Linked DNA regions of Homo sapiens. The protein of the gene in region 1 purifies or fractionates together with the protein of each later gene. This does not show direct contact. Each region holds a gene or a part of one and is shown on either strand. Other genes may lie near its edges. The genes, in order: ME2, NFASC, YTHDF3, IDH3A and KDM4C.

Region 1 (6,725 bases):
ACAGTCTTCATTTATGGAGAGAAAAGTGTTTCCCCATTCTCAGCTTCCCAAAATATGTCTAGTTTTGATTCTGAAGGTTGAACAGGCCTTGGGAACTCAGTTTCCGTCTCCTGGCAAGCAATAAACACTTCAGATCCTAAGTAGTATTCATGTACTGTGTTTGTTCCCTGTCTACCCATGGAACATTTGTCTTCAATCAAGCTCACTGCTATAGGTTCTTTCTTCACTCCTGCATGTGGAGATTTCTCTCTTGCTTTCAAACTTGGCTCTGTGTTGTTTCAATTTTACTTACCATCTCTGTGTTTTTAGAGCAAGAAAGGGAGATTTCAACATGTGACTAATCGATCACTTTAAACTGGAAGTTGATTCAGTTTAAACATATATTATACTTATTTACTCATCTATTGAGCACCTACGTCAGGGCCGGAATGAGGCCTAGGGTTAGTATTGCTCTCATATTCTTACTTAACACTACAGGAATCCATGTCTTTTTAGCTGCTGTGAAACTTACACCATCAGATTTGGTTTTCTTTTTTCTTTTTGCGACAGAGTCTTGCCGTCACACAGGCTGGAGTGCAGTGGCACGATCTCAGCTCACTGCAGCCTCCGTCTCCTGGATTCAGTGATTCTCCTGCCTCAGCCTCCTGAGTAGCTGGGACTATAGGCATGCACCACCATGCCCGGCTAATTTTTTGTATTTTTGGTAGAGACGGGGTCTCTCTATGTTGCCCAGGCTGGTCTCAAACTCCTGGCCTCAATTGATCTGTCAGTCTTGGCCTCCCAAAGTGCTGAGATTACAGGTGTGAGCCACTGCATCCAGCCAGATTTGGTTTTCTCTAGGTAAACATCAAAAGCATTAAACAGAATCTATTAAATCACCACCATGCAGTATTCTCTTAATGTTCTATTACCAGTAAGTTATAAAGTCCTAAATAAAGCTCTCCTTTGTGCTTTTTAAAAGAAATATGAACATGAACAAAACCAAGAAAAAGAACTTGGCCAGGTGCAGTGGCTCACGCCTGTAATCCCAACACTTTGGGAGGCTGAGGTGAGCGGATCACTTGAGGTCAGGAGTTCAAGACCAGCCTAGCCAACATGGTGAAACCCCATCTCTCCTAAAAATACAAAAATTAGCTGGGCAGGGTGGTACGTGCTTGTAATCCCAGCTACTCAGGAGGCTGAGGCATGAGAATCTCTTGAACCTGGGAGGTGAAGGTTACAGTGAGCCGAGATCATGCCACTGCACTCCAGCCTGGGCAACGGAGTGAGACTCCATCTCAAAAAAAAAAAAAAATCTAACTTACCCTTTCTCAATTTTAAATTAAAAAATAGACACATACCTGTATAGGCTTCCCAAGTTTTCCTTTTTTTTTAAATTTTAAATTTGTGTGGGTATATAGTATAAATATATACACACACACACATATATATAGAACCAGCATTGTGTACTTATGAATTGTCTTCACTATCTGAATCTAATAATGGATATCTATTAAATGTGTACAATCTAAAAGAAGAAACAGTGGTAGAGCCTGCTTTGAGCAAACTCCATTGATTTTATTTTTAAGAGAGAGAATTTGCTATATAAGAGAATTCTTCACTGGACTTCTTTAAATAGCAAGATTTTTCAGGCTATTTTTAAATTTTAAGTTACTCAAATTTGACTTTTATACATCTTTTCAGGATTATCTTGCATAAAAGCTCCATGTCACTTTATTTCCATTTATTATTATACTGCAGAAAGTACCAGCAGTTGGCTCTAAAAGTACAAATTATATATACATGTTTCTACACTTTTAAAAATTATTAATCAGTATCATATGAATAATAATGTTAATTATAGCAGCACAGTGTTAAAAATATATATATATACCAAGTAGCTTTCTCCCCAGAATCCCCAACATGGTGACAAAAGTATTATTAACAAAATTGGGATGGTTGATACTCTGCTAAGTGATGAAAAAAAACCATTTAAATTTTATAAATTGTCATTTAAAAAAAGTTTTATATATTTTTTTTTTTAGAGACAGTATCTCACTCTGTCACTCAGGCTGGAATACAGTTGTATAATCACAGCTAACTGCAGTCTTGAACTCCTGGGCTCAAGTGATTCACCTGCTTTAGCCTCCCAAGTAGTTGAGACTACAGGTACAAGCCACTGTGCCCGGCTAATTTTAATATTTTGTACAGCTGGCGTTTGCTATGTTGCCCAGGCTGGTCTTGAACTCTTGGCCTCAAGCAATCGTCCGATCTCAGCCTGTGAGTTGCTGGGATTAGAGGCATGAGCCATCACACCCAGCTAAAAAGAAGTTCTAAAAGAATTCATCATATGTTTATGTGGCTCTTCCAGGAGAGATAGCATTATTTACTACAGTTAAAACTTTGGGCCTGGCGTGGTGGCTCATGCCTGAAATCCCAGCACTTTGGGAGGCTGAGGCAGGCAGATCACCTGAGACCAGGAGTTCGGGATCAGACTGGCCAACATGGCAAAACCCTGTCTCTACTAAAAACACAAAAAATTAGCTGGGTGTGGTGACCGGCGCCTGCAATCCCAGCTACTCGGGAGACTGAGGTGGGAGAATTGCTTGAACCCGAGAGGCGGCGGCTGCAGTGAGCCGAGATTGCACCACTGCACTGCAGCCTGGGCAACAAGAGCGAAACTCCGTTTCAGACACACACACACACACACACACACACAAACACACACAAACTTTGGTGATTAGTACTGCAAGGTAGGCAAATCTAAAATGGTATGGAATACATTTTATTTTGAATCAAAGGCAATCCCCAAAAAATACATTTTGGAATCAGTAGTTAAGATCAGGTTGCTGATATACGAAATCTTCTATTTTCAACTCCTAGTTAAAATCTTGCTCCTATCAAATAATGAATTTGGGCCTGGCGCAGTGGCTCACGCCTGTAATCCCAGCCCTTTGGGAGGCCGAGGCAGGTGGAACATGACGTCAAGATTTCAAAGCTATCCTGATCAACATGGTGAAACCCAGTCTCTACTAAAAGTACAAAAATTAGCCGGGCATGGTGGTGCGTGCCTGTAGTCCCAGCTACTCGGGAGGCTGAAGCAGGAGAATTGCTTGAACTCAGGAGGCAGAGGTTGCAGTGAGCTGAGATCACGCCACTGCACTCTAGCCTTATGACAGATTGAGGCTCTGTCTCAAAATAAACAAATAAATAAAATAATGAATTTGGCTTGTATATAAAGATAACACCACCTCTCAAATCTACCTCATAGAAAACTGTGATGATTAAATGAGAGAATATATGCAAAAGAGTATTATAATTAAAGATAAAACATATATTATTCAAACTATTAGATAATTTTATTAGCAAGTGATAGAGTAAAATAAAATATAAAAGTAATTTTAATAGTGTCTTTAGTAGGCATAATTAAAAAAAAACTTAAGGAAAAAAACAATCTTTGCCGAAATTGGAACTTAGAACACTTACAGACAGAAACAGACAGGTGGGCTTAATATCTGCTGGAGACAAGACAGAACGAGGAAAACACACACCTAACTCCTTATGTTACACAAAGATGACAGAAGGAGAACTATAGGAGTGAGTGAAGTAAAAACAGGAAATAAAAGAAGGTGGGGATTCGAATTTTGAATGACTAAGTAAAATCAAGCTATTTACTGGAGAGTTTCTTTTTTTGTTTTTTAGACAGAGTCTTGCTCTGTCACCCAGGCTGGAGTGTAATGGCACAATCTTGGCTCACTGCAACCTCCACCTCCTAGGTCAAGCAATTCTCCTGCCTCAGCCTCCCGAGTAGCTAGCACTACAGGTGCCCACCACCATGCCCGTTTACTTTTTTGTATTTTTAGTAGAGATGGGGTTTCACCATATTGGCCAGGCTGGTCTCAAACTCCTGATCTCAGGTGATCCGCCCGCCTCGGCCTCCCAAAGTGCTGGGATTACAGGTGTGAGCCACCACACCCAGCAGGAGAGTTTCTTGAATACTGGAATATGCCCGTGGTTTCTTGCCCTGGTATGGTCACTGCCTTGCCCCTTCCATGAGTAAGCACAGACAAAAGAACTACCTCAAACAGGGAAGCAGTGGAACTCACCCTCTGGGTGGTATTTACAAACTGGACTGGGACTAAAGCTGTTAAGACATTGGCTGCTGGAGACTATTCTCCCTGGCCCCCTACCTGGAGGGAGAAGGAAATAGTCAACACCTGAGAAAGACTGTTCACAGGAGACCAAAACCCTAGACACTGTTCACTAGAAAGAGCTCATGACAGGGCAACAAGCACAGGCTTTGCTGTCAGACAGACTGGAGAGTGAATCTGGACTGGACTCAGCTAATTACCAGTTCAGAATCAGTTGTGTCACCCAGGCATTCCTGAATGATCTCTGAATTGGTGTTAGTTTAGGACATGTTTTTGACTGGTCTATGACCAAAGGAGGAAAAACTAACACAATGTAATATAGTTTTTCATAATATTAAATTTATTCTGTTTTTATGTTGTAACTATGACCTTCCTACCTTTGTGGTGGTAAAAATGTCCCTTTTTTAAGGAAAGGATCAGGACAGTAGATTGCAGTAGTTTTTTTGTTTGTTTTTTTGAGATAGAGTCTCAAAAATCACTGTCGCCCAGGCTGGAGTACAGTGGTGTGATCTCAGCTCACTGCAACCTCTGACTTCCAGGTTCAAGCGATTCTCCTGCCTCAGCCTACTGAGTAGCTGGGATTATAGGTGTGTGCTACCATGCCCAGCAAATTTTTGTATTTTTAGTAGAGACGGGGTTTCACCATGTTGGGCAGGCTGGTCTCGAACTCCTGACCTCAAGTGATCCATCCACCTCTGGCTCCCAAAGTGCTGGGATTACAGACATGAACCAATGTGCCTGACCAGATTGCAGTAGTGTTTAAGAAGATTCTCAACCTTGACAGAAATAAAAGTTGGAGATCTTACGTCTGGTCCCAATTGTCCCCCACACATAACAGTTTTTTACTTGTTGGCAAAGTCCAAAAGTCTGGAAGCCATTGACTTAGATGTTTCATTTTTCTCATCAATAAAGTGGGGGAGGGGAAACTTGCAGAATTCTGTGTAGTAATGTTGATATATACATATTATTAATAGTGTCAAGCCTTTAGAGCTTTACAATAGCATCACTATAAAGAGCTTGACTACTTGATTTCAAAGTTTGCTTTAAAAAACCCATACGAAATAGTCTAGCAGAGTGGTCAAAGGGCAAGTTCTGGAGTCAAACTGCCTGGATTTAAATCCCGTGGCGAACACCTGTAATCCCCAGCACTTTGGGAGGCCAAGGTGGGTGGGTTGCTTGAGCTCAAGAGTTCCAGGTCAGCCCGGGCAACATGACAAAACCCCATCTCTACAAAAAATTTAAAAACTAGCTGGGGGTAGTGGCACACACCTGCAGTCCTGGCTACTTCAGAGGCTGAGGCAGGAGGATGGCTTGAGCATGGGAGGTTGAGGTTGCAGTGAACCATAACAGCACCACTGCACTCTAGCCTAGGTAAAAGTGAGACCCTCTCTCAAAAACAAAAACAAAACAAAATAAATCCTGGCTTTGCCATTTGCTAGCTCTGTGATGCTGAGTAAATCACAACCTCCCCAATTTGCATTTTCTCATCAGTAAAATGGGAACGTTAAACTACAAGACCTATTTAATAGGCTATTTTAAGATTTAAATTAGATAATTCATTAAGATGCTTATCACAATGCCCTCTAGGTGCTCTAGAAAGGCTAGTTATCATAAGCATTACTATTAGTAGTTGTAGACTAAGGTGGTCACAAGGTGCCTTCTAAATGCCTGCTTGTTTCTGCATCAACATCTTTTAATGATCAAATTAATATAAGAGGCTATAAGGATAATCATGATTAACATTTATTCAAAATATTTCAAATCAAATCTCAAAGTCAAGAATGAGAATCTGGATGGTATACAAATACAGGCAACATCAAATGTCATCCTAAACAAGTATATACAGAATATATTTTTTATCACTTTTGAAATTTGTACATATTGATCAAAGGAGGTACAATATGCCACCATAAAATCAAAATCGTAACTTTCAAATAAAATAGTTAATTTCTAATAAAAGTTATCTTTTTATAAAGTCAATGTAATTTTTATTTAGTGTGAATTTTGTCCTGTAATATTAATCCTTAGTAAATATAGGTTTTAATGTTATTTGTGTTTTAAAATACGGCTAGTTCACCGGGCATGGTGGCTCACTCCTGTAATCCCAGCACTTTGGGAGGCCGAAGGAGGTGGAGCACTTGAGGTCAGCAGTTCGAGACCAGCCTGAAAAACATGGTGAAACCCTGTCTCTACTCAAAATACACACACACACAAATTAGCCGGGCATGGTGGTGCATGCCTGTAGTCCCAGCTACTCAGAAGGCTGAGGCAGAAGAAGCGCTTGAACGCGGAAGGCAGAAGTTGCAGTGAGTGGAGATCGCAACACTGCACTCCAGCCTGGGCAACAAGAGCAAAACTCCGTCTTAAAGAGAATAAAATATGTCTAGTTTGTCTGAAATTCACCAAAATCAATTAGAGTTTTTAACTTAATATACAGATTATACATACATAGCTGTAAGTTTTTAATTTTACAAAAGAAGTTCCCAAATGGTAAATGGGTTTTTTCCTTTATGAATATTTTGTTTTCATAAATATATTAAAAGACAAAAACATATAAACACCCTCTAAGGGTGTCACCCATAAGCAGTTCTCAGA
Region 2 (7,350 bases), on another chromosome or scaffold:
TCCTACAACACCAGGAATTCATCTAACCTCAATTATAGCAGTTCTTGTGCTGAGTCTTAATTTGGTTTCATTTCTGTGTCTCCAATTTGACTTACATGCCCAATAGCTTGCACAGCTCCTGACAGATTCAAAGGCTCAGGATACATTGATGAAATGAACAAAAATGGGTGTGTGGGGGAAAAGAGGGGCTACTCAGACAGATGAAACTGACAGTCTCTCTCCTTAGGCTATTTTCCCACTTCGGCTATGGATATTTGCGGGAATCTGTGGTCAAGTGTATAGCTTCTAAGGACCTCTCCTGCTTACCAACAACTTGCCCTCCCCATCAATGACTCCCACCTGACTCTGACCTCCCCATAATGCCAAATCCTTTCACACACCTTGCAGGTGTGTGAACCTTGCAGTCCTCACAATATTTTTCCTCGCCTTGCCTCTCAGCACATCCCTGTGCATCTTGCCTACACACGAGTAGCTCCCAGAGCCTCTTTCCTCTGACTCACTGACATTCTAAGCATATCCAGCCACACTTTACCCCTAAAATACAAGAGCTTAGAAGATGGGATTGGGAGAGTTAAGCAGCCTCGACCTCATCACAGAGCTCCCTTTGGGTATTCCCCTATCAGGTTCTAGCCACATCTAGCCGGGTTCACCTTGTTCACACAGGTGTTCACACAGAACATTACCCCTCTAGCCCTTCAAGCTGGGGATCTGACAACACCTTGAACCTCATCTTGTCCCCTACCCTTTTCCTGAGAGTCAACTTCAGGGTCAGCCCTGAGCTACCATTCCGGATAGCATCAGCCAAGCCCTCTTCATAGCTGTGGAGAGCAGGGTGCTGATACCACTGGAATTAAAGATCCCGCTGTGTAACATCCCTATCCGGATGCTCTTGCTCAAGCTTATCTGTTATTTGTCTGATCACCTGTCTTCCTCTTCCATTGCCCAGGAGCTCGGAGAGATTGGACCCTAGCTTACTTTTCATCTCTATGGTCTCAGCACCTAGCAGAGCAGCACACCGTAGGGCTTAATGGATCTTTGTTAAATGAGTAAGTATGAAACCGGCCTTACGTTCCTCTCACTTCTCCCCTCCCCACCCCAAACATCACCCCAGGCAAACAGACTGAGAACTGAATTTTTCTGCTTCCCCCTCTCTGATTTCCTAAGAATTTCTTTTTCTAAAGACAAAGGGATGATTCTCACACTCCAGCTCCTCCATGGTCTTGAAGATCTCAGGGTGCCTCTGGCCTCCAAAAAAGCCTGAGGGAGAAGAGTGGAGCCAGAGGTAGGAAACAAGTTGCAATATACTGATCAGAGCCTTGGCATCCTGTCTCTCACTCACCACAGAAATCAGACCCTCCTCTGGCCCACCCACCCCAGAAATGCAAAGCCAGAACCCCACCCCCAGCTCTCAGCCACCTCTTCAATGTGTGCCTTAAAAGAACCAGCCCTTGTGAGCGCAGCCAGTTCAGCCCACAGGGAGCTGGCTAGGTACAATTGGAAGGTCTTGCTCCAGCTCTCTGGGGAGCTGGCTTCTCCCTCCGTGTGCCTTGGTTTATTTCTCCGTACTCTTTCTGATGCCAAACAAGGGGGTGAGGGGTGAAATTCATTGCACAAAACTGGGAAATATGTACACTGTTATTAGAATCCCCCACTTCACCTGAGCTCCAGTCAAGCATTTCAACATCAGGACCTTAATCCAATCAGCTCTCAACAACGGCTGCAGGTAATGCTTTCTCCCTGTACCAGGAAAAGCTGGCAGCCCTTAGGCACTGATGCCAGGGAAAGCTTCCAGCCCCACCCCCTCTCACGCTGGAGAGGCGACGGAGAAGGGTGACAAAGCAAGGTGCAGCCAGTGCCCCCAGCAGCACATCCCCTTGCCAGGCACTGCCTGAGGCCCATTCAGAGTTTACTGCACAGGAGCTGAAGGAGTCCAGTCACTTGGATTCCTAAAGTGAAAGCCTTGCAGAGAAGGGACAGAGTCTGTCTGCAATTCGCTCTTAACGCCTCAATTTAAGCCTCTGGGTTTCGTCTAAGCCCCTAAGACAGGAATCGGGCTGCCATTCCCTGTTCCACAGTGGCAACCACAATTTCTGGGGCTAAGTGGGAGTGAGTCTCTTTCCTTACTGGCATAATTCTCTCTCTCTCTCTCTCTCTATACACACATCACACAACACACACACACATCACAACACACACACACATCACAACACACACACACATCACAACACACACAACACACCCCTTCAGTTGAATCCAAAGACAAGGGGAGAAATTACTCCCTCCGAAGTGCCAGCTCAGTCAAGACAAAAGGTGAAATGTATTAGCTGCGTAGCAGGCCCCCATCTCCTTCAATTCTTCCTGCAATGCAATTCCACCACATCCAATCATCCCCAAACCAGAAGGAGGATAGATCTCTGCCTGCCTTCCTCCACTGCCCCCACCTCACAGCTGGTATGGCCCCTATCCCCAGAGGCTTCCACTCTTCACACACATTTTCCCTGGGCTATTCTCCTATTGCTTTAAGTTCTGTGGGCTCTGAGGCTGGCTTTGGCTCCACACAAACAATTAAACTCCTGTCCAACCAGGTCTCAAAGCCCTGTGGCTTGCCCTTGCCTTGCTGGAGATTTGACTGAGGCCCAGCAGGGCCCAGCACATTTCCAAGGGTAGATGAGACGCACTAGGCCCTCATGCCAGGGACACAGGCAGGCAGAAAAGGGGTATTGTTGTCCTCTCCCCCACACTGAGGGATGAGGCATCTCTGCTCAACACACACACACACACACACACACACACACACACACACACCCCATGCCAAAATGCCAAGGAAGGAGTCAGGAGCAGAACCTGGCTCAGGACAGGATGGGGGCTGCCATGGGGACCAGATTCTAGGTGATTCAGCACTCTGCCCACTCTTGGCCCAGCCCATGGGCCACACTCATGACAGCTCCAGATGCCAAAGTGCTGACTTGGAGGCTGAAGCAGAATCTTTTCTAAAATCCAAAATTATCCAGCCCTCCAGCAGGGCTCCTCATCCAGGCCTTTACATCAGGGCTCAGGCCAAGCCCCAGGAGGAGTCTGCTCAGTCATTCCCCTGGACCCTGCCCCTTCCCCATCCTAGTTTCCCAATGCCTAGCACCCCCTCCCCCAATCCATCTAGGAAACAAACCTGAACAGCTAGAGGAGTAGAGTGGCTGCATGGCTGGAGAGGAACATAAGAGAGAGGCCTACTAACCCCCAGCATTCTTCCCCAAGCCACAAATAGGATCGAACATGCAGAAAGGGGTTATATTCCACAACCAAGATCCCCACCCAGGGAAGGGGGGTCCAGAGGCCACTGAGGGAGGGCTGGGTACAGGCTGTATGGCTCCACACAGCACCAGGAAGGGCAGCTAGGGAAGGTGACGGGTGTCAGGCCAGCTAACAGCCAAAGGGGGGAGAAGGCGGGGTTCTTGAGAGGGACTGTGATGCAGGAGGACACCAAGAGGCAGCTGGGAAGGGGCTGGGACAGGGCGTGCAAGGGGGAACCAGGGGAGGACAGAAACTGAGGGAGCAAATGGAGAGACAGGACACCAACTGGTAGGGGCATGAGATGGGGAAGAGAATAGGGGAGGCAAGAAGGGGCTGATGTGTGCGGTAGGAAATACAGGAGGCATGGGGTCATCCAAAGTGGGGTGTCGAGGTAAACAGAAGTACAAGGGCAGGCAGGGCTCACGGATGAGGCGGGGACAGAGAGGAAAGGGAAAGGGTTGAGGATGCGGGAAGGGGGAGGGGACGCGGCCAACGAGATAGAAAGGGTGTTGGGGTGGGCAGGGGGCTGGGAGCTGGACGGGGACGGGGTGGGCATACGAACAGAATCGGATGGATTCGGGGCAGGTGACAGTGTGGAGAGGGGAAGGGATGGGAATGTGGACGGAGGGGGAGGGGGCAGGTCAGGGGATGGAGACAGACGAGGGCGGGAACAAGGGGGTGTCGCTAGGTGGGTTTCCATGACTCTCTACCCCCATCTCTCCGGTGTTCGCGCTCGCCTACCTCCAAGGGCTCGGGCTCCGGCCCTGGGCGCTGTCCGAGCTGTCCGCTGCCGGCGCCGCCACTTCCCCCGCGTCCCCTGCAGCGCCTCTCGCCGCCAGCCGCCGCATTAGGGCAGAGACCAGCCCGTGCGCGTCCCCGGGCGGCCGGCGCGCCCCCGACACCCTGCGTGCGCGCCCCCGCGCCCCTCCCTTCGCGCTCCTAGCGGCCGCTGAGCGGGGACCAGGACAGAGGCGGAGGGAAGGATGCTCCGGACGCAGCCCCGCCTGGCGCGCTGGGGAGCGGTGCGCAGAGCCAGGGCCGGAAAAAAAAATCCTCCTTTCTCTTTTCACCTGAGGCCTCTTTGCGGGCTTGCCTGGAGAGTGATAACTAGTCTCCCCGTTTCCGTTCGCTGAGCACCTACTACGTGCAAAGCACACAGGAGGAAGTACCCTGAAGCCCCAACAGGATCGCTTGTTTGCACCTCCACCATAGACTGTGACTTTAGGGAGCAGGAAGTTGCCGGACAGCTTGTGTTCTCAGGGCCTAGCACAGAGACTTGTTTGTGGTAAACTCTCCAGCAACATTTGTTGATTGGCAAGTCGTTGGATCCTGATTCAGGGATGTGAGAGAGGTTGTGACTGCTATGAACAGTGCGGGGCTTTCTTTTAGAAATGGGAGATTTCCTCTGCCCTAGGGGGACTCAGGCCTCAGTCGTGGCTGGAGAACTATCTGACATGATAGCAAGACATTTATCTGTGGACATCAGTTTCCACAACTGAACCATGAAAAGTTGATTGGGTGGTCGCCCAAGGTCTCTTCTAGCTCTGACACGAAGACTGCATTAGGTTCTGTGCACAGGATCTGAGCTCAGAATTATCACCTGAAACAGTGGAAAGATCCCAGTTAGGGAATCATAGAATCTTTGTCTTGGAAGAGCACTTGGAAGCTTCTAGTTCAGCTCCTCATCCAAAACTACAGTCCCCTGCAGCATCCCTCTGTGGCCCCATTCAAGGGCTACTTTCTCTGTGCTCATAGCTCCTACCCTGGCACCACTGTCTTTTATTCTGGATGAGAACACCAAAGTTCAAGGAACCTGCCCAAGTAATAATTCAAAGCCCAGATGCATCTGACAGTGCCTAGTTAAAACTACTTTGCTATTTTAAGATGGGCCCTACAAGTTTTAGATTTCACCAATACTAGAATCTTCTAATATGGTCAAGTTGAAGGATCACAGGATTTGCCAAGAAAGTCCTGGCTTACCAGCAGGGTAAACTTGGGCAGTTCACTTAACCTCTCTAAGTCTTCTTTTTCCCATCTGTAAAATGGGCATAGAGTGAGCATCAATGAGATAAGGTACTGAACCAAACTGTTCTTTACAAATGTTAATTATTGTTCAGCCTTCCCTCCCCTTTCTTCATTACTTTTAAACAGCAAATACACGAAGGTCTAGAGAGATGGACCCCACACAGTGGTTTGGTGGTTGAAACTGAACTGGGACTCAAGTTTCATGGCCTTAGTATAAAGAAATTAAGTGTGGGCCTAAAGGGAGCATGGTGACCCCCAGAGGCCCTGAGGGTGAAGGTGTTTCCTTGGCCTCGGTGGTGTCCCAGAGCTGCAGGCAAGTCCTGATGGAGGGAGAGGCACCCCCTGCTGGTGATGGACTCTGGGGACTAAGAAGAGCCTACGCACCTTGCAGGCTGTTCTGCTGCTGTGTCAGGAACAGACTCACTCAGGACCGAGGGCAGAAAGTGGTTGCTCTTTTTCTTTCCTGACATTTATCTGGCCTTCCTGCTTCTTTTTCTTCCCTGGGTTTGCACCTCTAGTTCTGGCTGGAACCCTCAGCAAGCATGGACTTTCAACCCAGACCTGAAACCTCACTCACTGTGTCCTCTGTCATGGTGAATGGCAAGTCACAGGATTTTCACATTCCCTAGTGTTTCATTCCTCCCAATGAAATTCCATAAGCCCTGCCTCATCCTGGGCTCAGACCAAGAGAAAGCCCCAGGTATGAGTCTCGGGCACTTGAAGCCATCCTCTTCCACACTGGTCCCTAGGAAGTGTGGGGAAACTGGCAGATTCGTGCATCATTGGTGGAGGTTTAACTTGGTATGGCCTTTTTGGGAGAGCAATACAGCAGTACCATCAAGACTTTAATGACACCCTTGACCCATCAATGCCACCTCAAAGAATCCAGCCTGCAGAATCACTGGCCCAATCCACAAAGATGTGTATGCACAAGGATACTCAGTGCGGCTCAAGAGGACAATGATTACATCCATTGTAATAATCCATGCAATAGCACAGTTTTAAAAATTATAACAATGATAACACACACACATTTGTTTTTTAAAAAGCAAGTTAATAATGACATACAGGGAATAAAGGTATTATCCTTTTCTGGGGGAAAAGGGAAAGCAAATTGGGAGACAGGGTGGGAAGAAGAGGAAAGAGGGAATAATGCCCTGGGCTAGTTTAGAAGATAAGAGCAAAGGCCCTTAAGCTTACTAGGAAGGACCTAATTTTTGTTGAAGCCTTTCACATACTAGGCCTTTTGCATATATTATGTTACTCATTCCTCAGAAACCCCAGTGAGGTGGGGATCATTGTCCCCAATTTACTGATGAGGAAATAGATGCCCAGTGAGGTTAATAAGAGTACAGCATCACACAGATGGGGTGTGGTACAGTGTTAGCTTTGCCCCTAGAGAGATCTGACTTTTGTCCTTGGCTCCTGGGAGGTCATCTCTGAGTCCTTGGTTATCTCACCTGATAAGAGTATCTTTATCTACCTGGGGGTCTTGGGCAAAACCAGGTAGTCTATACTAACAATGATGGATGGTGGGGTCTTTGGGCATGCATCGGCTCAACCTCCAGAGGGGCTAGAAACTAAGGTCAACCACTTGGATGGTCAGCCATGACTACATGACTGAGCCCCAATAAAATCCCTGGACACTAAGGATTGGAAGAACTTCCCTGATTAGCAATATTTTGCATGCAGTGTCACACATTGTTCCTGGGAGACTTTAGCACTGTCCTCAGCTTCATCAAGAGAGAATAACTGCGATCTCTGCACATGCAACTCTCCTGGACTCTGCTTGACCTGTCTCTTCTTTTGGCTAATTCTAATCTGTATCCTTTTATTGTAATAAACCACCATTATGAGCCTATGAGCTCTCAGTTCTATGAGTCCTTCTAATAAATTACTGACCTAAGAGGGGTCTTGGGAATGCTTGAGCTTGCAATTGGTCAGAAGTAAGAATGGTCTCAGGGACTGCTTCCTAACTCTGTAGATGGTAAGTGGTGGAATTGGGAGTTGGACAAAGATCTTAGAGTCTCCAGGGTG
Region 3 (3,333 bases), on another chromosome or scaffold:
GTTTTGACAACACAAAACAATTCTGTAATTTTCCTATCTGAACAAATACCTTAGATAGAGAGCCCAGCAATAATCAGTGCATCACCCAGAGTTGCCATGATCCTATCCACATAAACTATCAATCCCAAGAGGTAATGCAGACAATGTCAGAAAAACATTCCTTGGTACCAAGAGTGGGGGATTAGGATTATTAGCTGCTGCCACTATTTCCTCCTGCTACAAAAAACAAACAGGCCTTCTCTTTCTCTTTTGTTCTAAACTTAGTATTAAAAGCATGTAAGTCAATAAGCTCCTTGGAATGGATAAAAAATAAGGTAAACTGTTACCCTCCCTCTGATTAACTGCTCTGTTTAATTTAAAGTCAACCAGAAGGAGTGATATAATCTATTTGTACGTGAAAGATATGTCAATCAGGAAATCCATAACAGAGTAGGCAAAAATGTTACGTTTTCTGGCAAGCAATACATATTCATGAAGATAAAATGGAAAGAACACAGATATGAGTGAACAATTTTTATTGAAACCCTCAAAGATTAAAGAGGACCAAATGGTGAGTTTGGGTACCATAACAGAAAATCTCACCTAACTGTACCATCATTCACAGGAATGAACAAACCCAAACACGACAAAATTCAAATTCTCATGTAATTGCTACAAGTGAATGTAAATGAACTAATCATTTTATCATAACCTTCCTTTAATCATACGAAAAAGGGAATTTACATGGCATAACAAAAGATATGCAAAACTTAATGAAAACACAATTCTCTTAAATTTCTTAAACTTATTTTTAAAGGATGCAGAATGCACTTGAAATGATTAAATGACTTAAGCTGATTCATTTTTTTTTATTGCAAACTGTTTTAACATCAGCTTAACCCCCATGCACGGTATTCAAAAAGAACACAGCTTTCGAATTAGAAAGATCACTTAAATTAAAAAGAGAAATTAAGTACTAAAATTAGGAAAACGCTGGATTTCTTTTGAAAGGAATCTTCAAGTACCAATACGTATAGAGAAATACTAATTTTGGTTACAGTTTCCTCCTTACTGTTAAATATACAAACTATAATACCTTTCAAAATAAAATACCCACATAAGATAGCTTTAATAAGAAATATTCAAGCCAGAACTTGGAAAAACATTAAGCAAGAAATTTACTGGGCTGATAATGTCTTAATTTGTGATCATTCAAACATTTGATGATGTGTCTCCTCTTGTAGACCCCAGGCTCTCTCCCTTTTGGTCCCCACAGTTAAGAGACATTCAGTTGGTTGTGCTTGAGACAACCTGTGATAATTTCATTCAGAGGAAAAATATTTTGCAATATAATGACAGACCAAGAAGGAAGAGAAGGTGGGTGCTCTGGAGAAAACTTATATGAGAAAAACACAAAATTATCACTTGAAAATAAAAAGATTTTTTTTTCCAAAGGAATGCTGCACCCATTTCACTTAAGATTAGAAATCCAGGTTAAAGGCACTGGGATGTACTCCTCACCATGAATAGACTCTCAATTACATTTATTCGCATGTCTGAGTCTATTGCAATCAGCCTGCTTGCTGAGTGCTTCCATGACACTCTTACATAAAAACCTAATGTAAATTAAACATGTTTGAAACCGTTTATAATGTAACTAGTTTTATAAAAATATCCAGAGTTGCTAATAAAGCACCAAGAAAAAGAGAACCTCAGGGGGAGGACTCAGATCCTTCCTACAAGGTCACCCTTTTATAATATTCTCTAATAGGACCTCCAGAATGACAACAGTCATCTTTGACATGTCCTACCTAGATAATCTTAGGGATGTAGAACATTGCTGTGGTGACTATACCCAAATGCCACTTTTCATTATAAATAGTTAAGAGACATGTTACAAGATTTCATGGCTTACTCTTAAAAAGGTAAAATAGGTGCAATTTTCCTTTAAGAAAGTCTTTATTTTATAATATACCATTAATATTTTGATGTTCCCTTCAGTAAACACTGATATAACTACACTGGGACTACCGAAGAACTGTGTAGTAGCTATGGTTATCTACAAATACTGTATTTTTTTCACTTGAATACAGTATTTGCACATTTAAAAAAAACATTGTACAAAATAAAATTATATAAATGAAAGCCTCAAAGAAATATCCATCACTAGGTCTTTGAGCTGAAGTGACCAAAGACCACAGTAAATGAAAACATTTCTAAACATGATGTAAACATAAATGAAGTAATGCAAAACATCAAGGTATTCAAATCTACTGTATTGCTATTTTCACCCTTAATGTATCTTTCTACATAGCTTTCTCCTTTTGGAACAGTAATACATGGGGCAGTACATTATTTTCATAACCTTATGCCATCAAATCAATTAATACAGATGCTTGACACATTTAATTATACAAAATCAATTTGCTTCAAGATACAAAATTAATGTTGATATGTAATTAATGAAAAAAATAAGATGTTAAAAAGATAACTATAAGAATATCCAGATATATGCTGTATTCCCACTTATATAGATCTGATCAATAAAACATCAACACATTCACTTAGATACTGATTTAATCCATGGATCAAGGCCATATTTTCAAAGTATTTTAAGGATGCCAGGACACTGCAAAAGCTGGAGAAAAGAGCTGAGGAACAACATATGCTTGCTAAACAAGAACTATGTTTATTTAGCTAGTGAATACCTAGAGTAATAAATTTTTACTTCATGATAGCAATCAGGCTCGCAAACACCCAGAAATAGGAATTAAGGGTTTTAAATGTAGTTATAAAGGTCATAAAAAGTCTGATTAGACTGAGGTACATTTACTCAAAATTTTGAGATTCATTAAGTGGTAGCAAACAAAATAATTCCTCAGACAAATGCACATTTTTCAGTATACATATTAATGGGGGGAGGAGGGAAGAAGAATGTGCATTAACTGGTGAAATCCACCAAGCTGCATATCAATATTCTGTTACACCAAACAGTTTGAAGACAAGGGAAATGTTCTAATATAATTTCAGATTATGTTTCATTTGGCTAAAATAGAGCTTAAGGTTGCTTTGCCATATTAAAAGTTTACTACAATAATTTTTCACATCAACATTTAGACTTGAACTCCAGGACTAAATATGGCATGATTATTTTGCTTTTAATCTGTCAAATAGCTAAAAATCGACAATTTAAAAACTACAACAAAGAAAAAGTTGAAGCAGTGTGACTCTTACATCATTGAACCACTTCTAATGGTTAACTGTTAGTATTTAACAAATTCAAAGAGTTAATGAATCCTTGCATTCATTCAGTCTTCTGTGCCTTAGCTAGGATGCATAATTACAAAAGACAGC
Region 4 (3,118 bases), on another chromosome or scaffold:
TCTTGTGCCCATTTAGTTTTAGAAGAGTGTCATTTTGTGCTATTATGTCAATATCCTGTTTTATTTCCATTATGTTTTTCAAAAACCGAAGAAAATAAGGTTTTTCTTAAAAAGTTAGACATTTTCTCTTGTTAATTCTGTATCCTGTTATTTACAGCTGAAGAGAAACTATTTTAACTTAAGTGTAAAATGGTTTAGAATAGCAAATGATACAGTCCACTCAGAGTTTACAAAAAAAACATTTACCAGGTAGACACTTAATAAATAAAACAAGCACTTGGAAAAAGTTCTTTGAAAACAGACCTAGGGACATCCACCTGCATCTTTTGCACAGATTTTGTTAAGAAAAGGCCAGATCTAAAAATGTACTGTCAAGAAACAAGCAAACCAATGCATACATACGTAGGTATTCTAAACAGAGGTTCATGTGGTGTCCATTTAGAGTGACTGATGTAAATGCCAGTTGTAGAAGTGTTAATCTAAATCTTTTACTCGGCGACAGATTTCCTCTGTGAAGTCTGAGCATTTTGCATTGCCTCCCAAATCTTTTGTCAAGCTCTGAGAAAAGGAAAAAGCAAAAATAAAAGATGTATCCGCAAACTAAACTAAACCAAGGAGATTTTAAAGCCCTCAGTGAGATGCCACCTGGGCAAGTTACTCGGCTGCTCTTTCATTTAGTTCCTCATTTCAAAGTGAGGAACCACTCCACCACCATCTACCCAGCCCAGGAGGATCGGGATCCAATCTCATAGTGTATACAACAGCACTCTGCAAAGAATAAGGTGCTCTTGATGCAAAGGGAGGCAGGGAGCTTTACCAAAATTTTCCCTTTGTTCACACAATAGACCCTAACCCAGATTAGTTGGTCATGGATATTTAAATAAAAGCGAATCTAAATAAGAAGTTTCATAAAAATCCTTGGGAAATATGTCTCAGGAATAGACCTGAGACATATTTTGATCTATTTTTGTTTTTATTATTATTTTTTTTTTAGATGGAGTCTCACTCTGTTGCCCAGGCTGGAGTGCAGTGGCACGATCCCAGCTCACCACAACCTCTGCCTCCTGGGTTCAAGCGATTCTCCTGCCTCAGCGTCCTGAATAGCTGGAATTACAAGTGCATGCCACCATACCCAACTAATTTTTGTATCTGATCTATTTTTGGAGGCTGGGACACAAATACGAAAGAAATATTTAAATCATTAACTCTTTTTTTTTTTTTTAAGAGACGGGGTCTCACTATGTGGCCCAGGCTGGTCTTGAACTCAGAGGCTAAGGTGATCCTCCTGCCTCAGCCTATAGCTGCAACTACAGGCATGCACCACCACACCTGCCTAAATCATTAACTCTTAAACCTCCCTCTTTAGGAAAGAAAGCCTCCCATACAACTGATCTGTTCTACCAGCTTATCCTTTCTTTCCTGCATACAGACCCCAATATATTTAATTCTCTTTATCTTTCCATCCTACACAATAAAAGGGCCCACTATGTAATTCAGGCACCTCTCTACTGGGCTGTAGATTATAACTTCCCAAATATAACTTTAAAGAATAAGAAAATCATATGACCTCCAATGTGACTATCAGGCTGTTAAAAACAAGCCTGAATTTCTTGTATTTTGGCCACACGATATAATTTCAAATTACAGAATTTTTTTAAAAGAAGGGACCAACTTTGAAGATATTACGCTAAGTGAAATAAGCCAGACTCAAAGGACAAATACTGTATGATTCCACTTACATGAGGTACCTAGAGTAGTCAAATTCATAGAGACAGGAAGCAGAATGGCAGGTGTCAGAGGATGGGAGGGGGAAGGGAAAGTTACTGTTTAACGGGTGCAGAGTCTCAGTTTGAGAAAATGAAACTGGTCTGGAGATGACTGATGGTGATGGTTACATTACAATGTGAATGTACTTAACATTATTGAACTGTATACCTAAATACGGCTAAAATGGCAAATTTTATGTTATGCATATTTTTCACAATTTTTGTTAAAAAGGACCTCAAATTAGGGATGAGTCTTCAAGTGCATTATTTCCTCTAACTTCGGAATAGCCCGCGACACTTCTTCCACAGGCCACAATTGCTTACCGAGGCGGTGGAGCTTGTTGGGTAAGGCCCAGACTGCGTGTTAATACCAACTTGGGTCATTTAGGAGCTGTAAAACCTTGGACATATTATTTATTCTCTCTGTACCTCAGTTTCCTCATCTATAAAATGGAATTATAGCATCTACTTCAAAGAGTTATAGAAAAACTTTGCTGAGATGATATATAAAGAACTTAAAAGTTGCATAAGTATTCAATTAATATTAGTTATTACTTTTATAAAACTTCTGTATTGCTTTTGTATTATAGATGCACACAGTGTAACATATAAGACTATTGTATTAGAGGTACATCTGCATCTGTATCTGCCACTAGATTCCCAGCTCCTTGAGGCTCAGCATCTTACCCTATTCATCATTTTACTCTTCACACCTTATAAGGTACACTCAACAGACGTTTGTTGTGAAGAGTAAAAAGTTGTCTATAAAAATCAATGAACTTGGCCGGGTGTGGTGGCTCATGCCTGTAATCCCAGCACTTTGGGAGGCTGGGGCGGGAGGATCACTTGAGCTCAGGAGTTCGAGACCAACCTGGCCAGCATGGTGAAACCCCATCTCTACTAAAAATACAAAAATTAGCTGGGTGTGGTGGCACACGCCTGTAATCCCAGCTACTAGGGAGGCTGAGGCAGGAGAACTGCTTGAACCCGGGAGGTGCAGGTTGCAGTGAGCCAAGATTATGACACTGCACCCCAGCCTGGGTGACAGAGCAAGACTCTGTCTCAAAAAAAATCAATGAACTTGGCCAAGGTCACACAGCTAACAATAGGATAATTGGGCGTGCACCTGATGCTGCCTCCCAAACCACTGACCTTTCCACTGTACACTGATGTCTATACATCAGTGCTGCTTAACTTTTTTTGGATGAAATATCTAGATCCTCACCTCAGAAAATGCACACATGTGCACACATACCCTGTTCAATCTGGGACCCACGTTAAGAATCCTTGTTCAACATCAAATGCTTGGGCCCGCCTGAGAACTATTATCTGTCACTGTCCCTTTCACTCAG
Region 5 (6,725 bases), on another chromosome or scaffold:
AAACCTGGGCCGCAGTATGTCCTGATAGCCAGCTCTCCAATAAACTTGTTTTTCTACTGGTTTAAACCCAGACAAATAAGCAAGTCAGAGACAGGACTGGAGAAAATGGAAATCTTTATTTTTAAACACTAGTACATTTTCAGGCTGTTTTAAAAAAGAAAAATCATGTTACATTAGTTCAAAACTATGCATCAAAGCATATTTATTTAAACTCTAATTTTACAAACACATAATGAAAGAAACATATATTTTATAAATATCTACTCGGAATATGTATTATGAAAAAAAGTGTTTAAAAATAACAGCCCCAGATCTCCCTCTTTAAATATATAAAATTCGCATAACAATTCATAAGAATTCTTTCTCAAGAGCCAAAAATTTCATTTCACAAAGGCCAACAACTCAGTTCCCATCAGACACAATCAAAAGTAATAGGAATATTCAAAAATGTAAAAGTTCTGTACAAGGGAAATACAGATAGCACACGGGTAAATCTCATTAGCATACATGCCATTTGTGTTTTAAAAATGTTTTATAAAAACTGCAATTTGAAACAAATAAGTGAGAGTCCTTCCCTGACTGTGGAAAATATATAAATTATCGCCCTACCCGCTGGGTACCGAGGTGCCACCTGCTGGAGCTAGAGAGAGAGGTCCCCGTGTGTTTCCTGACAGGGCCCTAAGCCGCACAAGGGGACCCGCCTCCTCTGTGGCAGTGGCTTTTCCTTGTGGGTGATTCACTAGTATTTCCTTTCACTTAGAAAACTTCTTTGGGATCATAGAAGACAACTGCTCACAAGTGAAAGCAAGACTAGAGATGATTTCAGATTGCTGCGTCCAATTCATTGGGTGTATTTTGTATTTTTGGTGACCAAACTCTGGAAACCCGATTTACCACTGTCAGAGACACACCCTGTCACCTATGCCAGCAAAACTCACGGCACAGCCCCAAGGATGTCCCTTCATCTTCTCTCTTCCAACCCAAGCTGCTCTGTGGCCTGCAGCGATGTATGCAGACTACTGTCTCTTCTGGCACTTCTTCTGGAAAGAGCTCTTCAAAAAAGTGCGGTATACAGGGTCGGCCACATATTCATTCTTAAACCTGGAGCTCAGCACTCTTTGTCTCTTTCTCTCCCCTTGGATAATGTCTGCTCCATAAAACGTGTCTTCAAATCGCATGTCAGAGGCTGTGGACTAAAAGCAGCTGGTGTTATATTGCAAAAGGGCACGGCATTTGATCTTCAGAACACTGGACAAAGATCTGACTCGGTCAGCTGGGGTTAGGGTGCAGATGCCCAGGTCACCAGCTCAGGCTAAAAGGGCCCCAGGCATGGCTTTGGGCTTTCCCTCGCCTCTCCCACCCAAAGTGGGGGGCTCCATTTAGCCCTACTTTCTCCAGGATCTCCCCACCCTCCAACCCCAGGGACCTTCCCCAAACAAAAGCAAGATTAAAGTCTTCTCGTTTTAAACTTCCCTCATTTTTCATCTCCCCTCTGTTTTTGACAAATGTCAACAGTCATCTCTAAGTTACCTTTACTCCTACTTAGCTTTGGGCCTCTGCCCCACCCCTTCCCTGAAACTGTTCTTGCTGAATGAAGTCCTAGTTGCTAATTCCTGTGACACCTTCCTATCCCTAAACTGACTTGACTAGTCTGCCAACTAATTACTGCTTAAAGCTCTCTTCTCTGTCATTTTGTAAACCCACTCTCCTGCTTCTCCTTCTCTGGCTGCTCACTTTTGATGTCTCAGGGGTTCCCTTTCTTAACTATCTGCTCAACTACGATGCCCTAAGGTTTGGCACTGGGCCTTCTCCTCTCCACTCCTGTTCCCTGGGCCTTTGTGCCCACACCCCTGGCTTCAGTGTCTGCAGGAGATGCTCACATCTGCTCCAGCTCAGGCCTGTAAGTGCATTTCCCCAGCAGGCATCACAAAGTCCCTGTCTCAGAGGCCCTTCAAATCAACCTGTCCTAAATTGAACTGAAAGCCTTCCTTCTTCATTGCTGTCCTTCCTACATTCCATAAAAGGCACCACCATGCCCATGCACCCAGTTACATTGGCCAGAAACCTAAAGGCACTGTAGACATTTCCCCACCGTGTCCAGGATTCCTCCTGCATGTACCTTGAAGCCCTTCAGCCTTTCTTCTTGATCCTTACCCTATGGGGCAGGCCCTCACCTCTGCAAAGCACTGCAATAAATGCTGTACCTCCAACCTATTTCCCACAGTACCACTGGAAGAAAGCTCTCTAAAAGCCCTCTTATTATAAGACTCTACATGATCATATGCCCTTGCTTGTAATTTTCCAGCAACCTACTGCCTTCAAGATGACATCCCCACTCCCCAGGCTAGACCTACATAACCTGGCCAGAAGCCTGCCCCGTGCTCTGCTCAGACGGCATCAGTTGCAGGGCCTGGTCATACTTGCCTGGCTCAGGGCCCCATGCTTCTCTGTCTTTGGACACACTGTTTCATTTCTGTGAAAGTTATTCTATTCTACTGTCTCTGCCCTCGGCAAGCTTAAGGGTCCTTCTTTGGGACTCCTGTGGCCCTGACACATCCACTCAGTAAGAGGAGGGCAGTGGTAGAGGTAAGGGGCAAGTAAGTTTCTCCCCATCAGGGGAACCCCATAAAGGTGAGGATATTAGGGACTGTGTACCCAATTTTACATGTGTTCCCCACAGCAAACAATGTGGCTAGTATTTGGCTGCTGTTCAGTAAGTGTTTGCTGAGTGAGGGCATGTGGCTTTTTCTGTGATAATCAGATAAAGCCTAAAGTCTATGGTAGGCACTATTTTTGCTTCCCAATTCCCTACTATCTTGCCTCCTAAAATGCACTGGCAGCTGTTTTCACTGAGGTGGATGACTTCTGATGACATCAACACACAGCACATTTCACTGTGCTGAGACTGCTTCCCCTGGCTGCTGGCAGAGGCAGAGGTGAAAGACACTTTAGGACTTGAAAACACACGGTCCATAGTAAAGAAGAGAAAAACAAGAAAACAGCCACAAGGAAGCCTGAAAACAAAAAATGTACCGAAGCGTAAAGCTGTTCATGTTTCCAGCCAGTTCATGGGACAGTTACTCAGGGTAACAGGCCACCTCCACGGCTTCCCCCACATACCACCTAGTTTCACTAGAGAAGAAAACTAAATCATTATGGGCTGGTTGGGTTCCCTCTGCCATTAGGAGAAAACACTTTTGTTTCATTCATTCTTGGCAAAATACTTCCTCTGAGTAATCTTTCACTTGTGTAAGTGCTAAAGTTATCAAAGAAGAAAATAAAACATCTATGAAAGTGTTGCCACTGTGCAGAAACAGCAAAAGTCGGCCTCTCAAATACAATAATAAAACCGATTTACCAGGAGCTCTAGCTAATTATGCACCGTTGCTATGGTTATTCTGTGAGACAATAAAAGGTAACGGGGCTGCTTCTGAAGTGAGTGGAAAAGAACCCCACACAATCACTGAGGTGGACTGCTGGCTCTTTTGAACAGTTTCTCCCCCAGTCAGCGTGTGTCTGGGTGAGCCGAAGTCATTAAAATACAAGGCCTCCTGACAAGGGCGGCTAACCTCCATCCTTAAAAAACAAAAAAGACTTTTCTAACCATAAAACATCTTCCATCAATGAGTTTTCCAATTAGATTTGTTTTGCCAACTGGAAAAAAAATAGTAATAATCATGGACAGACTAACCAAGGGTCTGAGGGCTATGTACCAACCCAGGGGAGAAACAGGCTGGCTACGACAAGACTGTGTATGTCTTTGATTCAATAAAGGTGGCCAACAGGACTTAGTGACCGTGAGCCTTTGTTCCCTAAGATATTTTCTACTTGGCTTAGCCGCTCAGAATAGCAGGCTGCATTCAGAGTGTATGGATGTGATTTACATATTTTCACTTTTTTTTTAATTAAAAATTTTTTCAGAGAATAAAAAAAAAATTGAATGTTGGTGAGCTTGTTCAGTGAAATAGACCTTAGAAAATCCAGGACCTGTGTTCCGAGACAGCCACAGGGGAAGGCATCCTGGTATCTGAGCGAAATCTACTGTGAAACAAAGAGATTGTGATCAGAGTATGAAAGCAATGAGCTTTCTTCTCATGTGATTAAGAAACAGTATTTGAAATCTACAAGACTCAGCTGGTAGGATGCTTAGTCATACATCGATTAGAAAATGAAAGACCCAAGAGACTTTGAGAGGCTACCTACTCCACTCCCCATCCTCTAAATCTCTAGGTGCTGAAAAAGGAAAAGAAAGGAGCGGGAGGAGCTGGGAATAAGGCAGGGAAGAGGGGAGTCCAAGGAAGACAGGAATACAGAACGAGACGAAGCTATCTCTAACATCTCGAAAAGGAAAGTTTTTCTCAAGAAATTTCAGGTCTCAGAACAGCGACAAGTCATCTAAGGTTTTTCGGTCTTGGTAAGATTTGGCTGGTATCTTTACAACAGGAATATTTAATTTTTTCTTTGCTTGCTGTCATTATCTAGTAGTTACTCTATTTACAGGTGTGTGGGTCCCCTCTGAGCCACATTTCCCATCGAGTGGGCAGCAATACCACCACTCCTCTTGACGATTTCACTTTGAAGGACCTTCCTCTGAAGGATGCAGCTGAGAGGAAAGTCAGTTCCCACCTGATGCAGTTACTCTGCTGTCAGGATCCCATCTGACTGGAAAAAAGCTGCATACACAACTGAACGTTTAAGGCAAGCGTGTCCAACCCATGGCCCGCCGGCTGCATGCTACCCAGGATGGCTTTAACGCGGCCAAACACAAATCTGTAAACTTGCTTAAAACATTATGAGTTTTTTTTTGCTTTTTTTTTTTTTTTTTTTAGTAGCTCATCAGCTATTGTTAGTGTAGTTTATGTGAGGCCAAAGACAATTCTTCTTCTTCAAGTATGGCCCAGGGATGCAAAAAGATTGGACATCCCTGATTTAAGAAAACCCTTGGTTTTTCCAAAATAACCAAATAATCTATAGTGACTCTATCACTGCAGACAAGTATATCATAAGCACTCACTAAACTGAATTATTCAGAAAAAAAATTTCATTTTAGTCAGAAAAACCCCATCCATTCAAATTTCTCTATTTAGGATTTATCATTTCACAGACACAATAGATATAATTCTAAATGAATAAAACTGACTTCATTTCAGGGTCCACTGAATATTTTATGATACAATAATATGAAGTCTAAATTATTGTGAATTATATTTTTCAATGACTGCAGTTTTGAATATTTGTCCATGTTTGTTCATCTTTTAATGGTATGTGAGGGCATGAAACTACTATTTCCTTTTTAAAAAACTGCTTTAGTATTCCCACAACTAGCATTTAGGCTTTGTTTATCCCTTTTATTATGAAAGTCAGAGTTTAGCTTAATGATGAACTGACACAAACATCAGTAACTTTCTGAGACAGAAGGTAGTCAATCCATGAAAAACCTATAAAAGAATAGACAGACATTCAATTATGCCGAGTCCCCTTTGATCTACTCCTGAATACTTTTAATGTTGCTTCTACTAACAAGATTGCAAATGCCTTGATGGTATCTTTGTTTGCTCCTGGTGTTTTACACAGAGCACACATTCAGTAAGTATTTTTGTGCACCAATAAATGTCAACACAAAGAAGCATCATGTGACTTCATTAGAAGAAAAGTAAAGCACATGCATTAATTTCCCCGATTTTGGTTGAATTTGAAGTTTGCATTCAATAGGTTCCACTAAGGAAAATGTTGCATTGGCTTTTTTTAGAATTAATCCAAAAGCCCAAGTATGTTTCCTGCTGGGCTTGGGAAACATGAGGTGAGGACAAGGAATTCACTTGGCAGGTCCCCAAGTGGCATCTGCCAGCACTTACAAATCGAGCTTTCACTCTCTTGGGTAACTCTTCATCTAAAGTGTAGATGTCCTCTCTCTTCATTGCTATCTGGGATCCATCTTCAAACTCAACCTAATGAAAGATAATATAACATGATACATATTAAAAAAACAGCACTGACCATTTTTAAAGGCTCCAATTAACTACATGAAAAGATGAAAAGGACTCAAACAGAACAAACAAGGGAACCAGCCAACAACCAAGGAAGTAAGAAGAGTTATTTCCCTTATTAAGTAGAGGCCGGGCATGGTGGCTCACGCCTGTAATCCCAGCACTTTGGGAGGCTGAGGCAGGCAGATCCCAAGGTCAGGAGATCGAGACCATCCTGGCCAACATGGTGAAACCCTGTCTAACAAAAATACAAAAATTAGCCAGGCATGGTGGCGCATGCCTGTAGTCCCAGCTACTCAGGAGGCTGAGGCAGGAGACCCGCTTGAAGCTGGGAGGCAGAGGTTGTAGTGAGCTGAGATCGCACCACTGCACTCCAGCCTGGTGACAGAGTAAGACTCCGTCTCAAAACAAAAAAATAAATAAATAAACTAAATACAAAATACATTTCAAAACAGGCCAAAATTCTTGGAAATGAGTGTCTTGGAATACAGGATATGAAAACTTTATCTGGCGAAGCAACAACAAAGAAAAGTAGCTGCTGATCAAATGGAAATCACAAAACATGAGACTGTGGGAAATTCAGCATTAAAATGGGTTGGGTCTGTCAGCACGGTTCATTTCTTTAAGAGGCTCTGACAACGTAACAAGGAGAATTGTTTCTCTCTGTGAAAGAAAAGATAATATATTTCCTTTTTTTTTTTTTTTTTTTAAATTGAGACAGGGCCTTGCCCTGTTGCT

What was found.
Region 2: the proteins of ME2 (region 1) and NFASC fractionate together in Homo sapiens (co-fractionation; one large-scale study listed by BioGRID). This does not show direct contact.
Region 3: the proteins of ME2 (region 1) and YTHDF3 fractionate together in Homo sapiens (co-fractionation; one large-scale study listed by BioGRID). This does not show direct contact.
Region 4: the proteins of ME2 (region 1) and IDH3A fractionate together in Homo sapiens (co-fractionation; one large-scale study listed by BioGRID). This does not show direct contact.
Region 5: the proteins of ME2 (region 1) and KDM4C purify together in Homo sapiens (affinity purification with mass spectrometry; one large-scale study listed by BioGRID and IntAct). This does not show direct contact.

Annotation. Positions count from the first base shown.
Region 1 is NC_000018.10:50,880,816-50,887,540, reverse strand, and holds part of ME2 (NAD-dependent malic enzyme, mitochondrial isoform 1 precursor), read right to left. Parts: intron 1-6,725.
Region 2 is NC_000001.11:204,825,462-204,832,811, reverse strand, and holds the start of NFASC (neurofascin isoform 1 precursor), read right to left. Parts: upstream 4,161-7,350; 5' UTR 4,137-4,160; coding exon of another isoform or gene 4,030-4,136; intron 1-4,029. UniProt on the Homo sapiens protein: Cell adhesion, ankyrin-binding protein which may be involved in neurite extension, axonal guidance, synaptogenesis, myelination and neuron-glial cell interactions.
Region 3 is NC_000008.11:63,209,954-63,213,286, reverse strand, and holds the end of YTHDF3 (YTH domain-containing family protein 3), read right to left. Parts: 3' UTR 501-3,333; downstream 1-500. UniProt on the Homo sapiens protein: Specifically recognizes and binds N6-methyladenosine (m6A)-containing RNAs, and regulates their stability. M6A is a modification present at internal sites of mRNAs and some non-coding RNAs and plays a role in mRNA stability and processing.
Region 4 is NC_000015.10:78,166,362-78,169,479, reverse strand, and holds part of IDH3A (isocitrate dehydrogenase [NAD] subunit alpha, mitochondrial precursor), read right to left. Parts: intron 2,013-3,118; exon of another isoform or gene 1,105-2,012; coding exon of another isoform or gene 995-1,104; exon of another isoform or gene 559-994; coding exon 475-558; 3' UTR 1-474. Other genes in the region: long-chain-fatty-acid--CoA ligase ACSBG1, read left to right, coding at 995-1,104. UniProt on the Homo sapiens protein: Catalytic subunit of the enzyme which catalyzes the decarboxylation of isocitrate (ICT) into alpha-ketoglutarate.
Region 5 is NC_000009.12:7,169,021-7,175,745, reverse strand, and holds the end of KDM4C (lysine-specific demethylase 4C), read right to left. Parts: intron 5,949-6,725; coding exon 5,856-5,948; intron 1,194-5,855; coding exon 1,017-1,193; 3' UTR 98-1,016; downstream 1-97.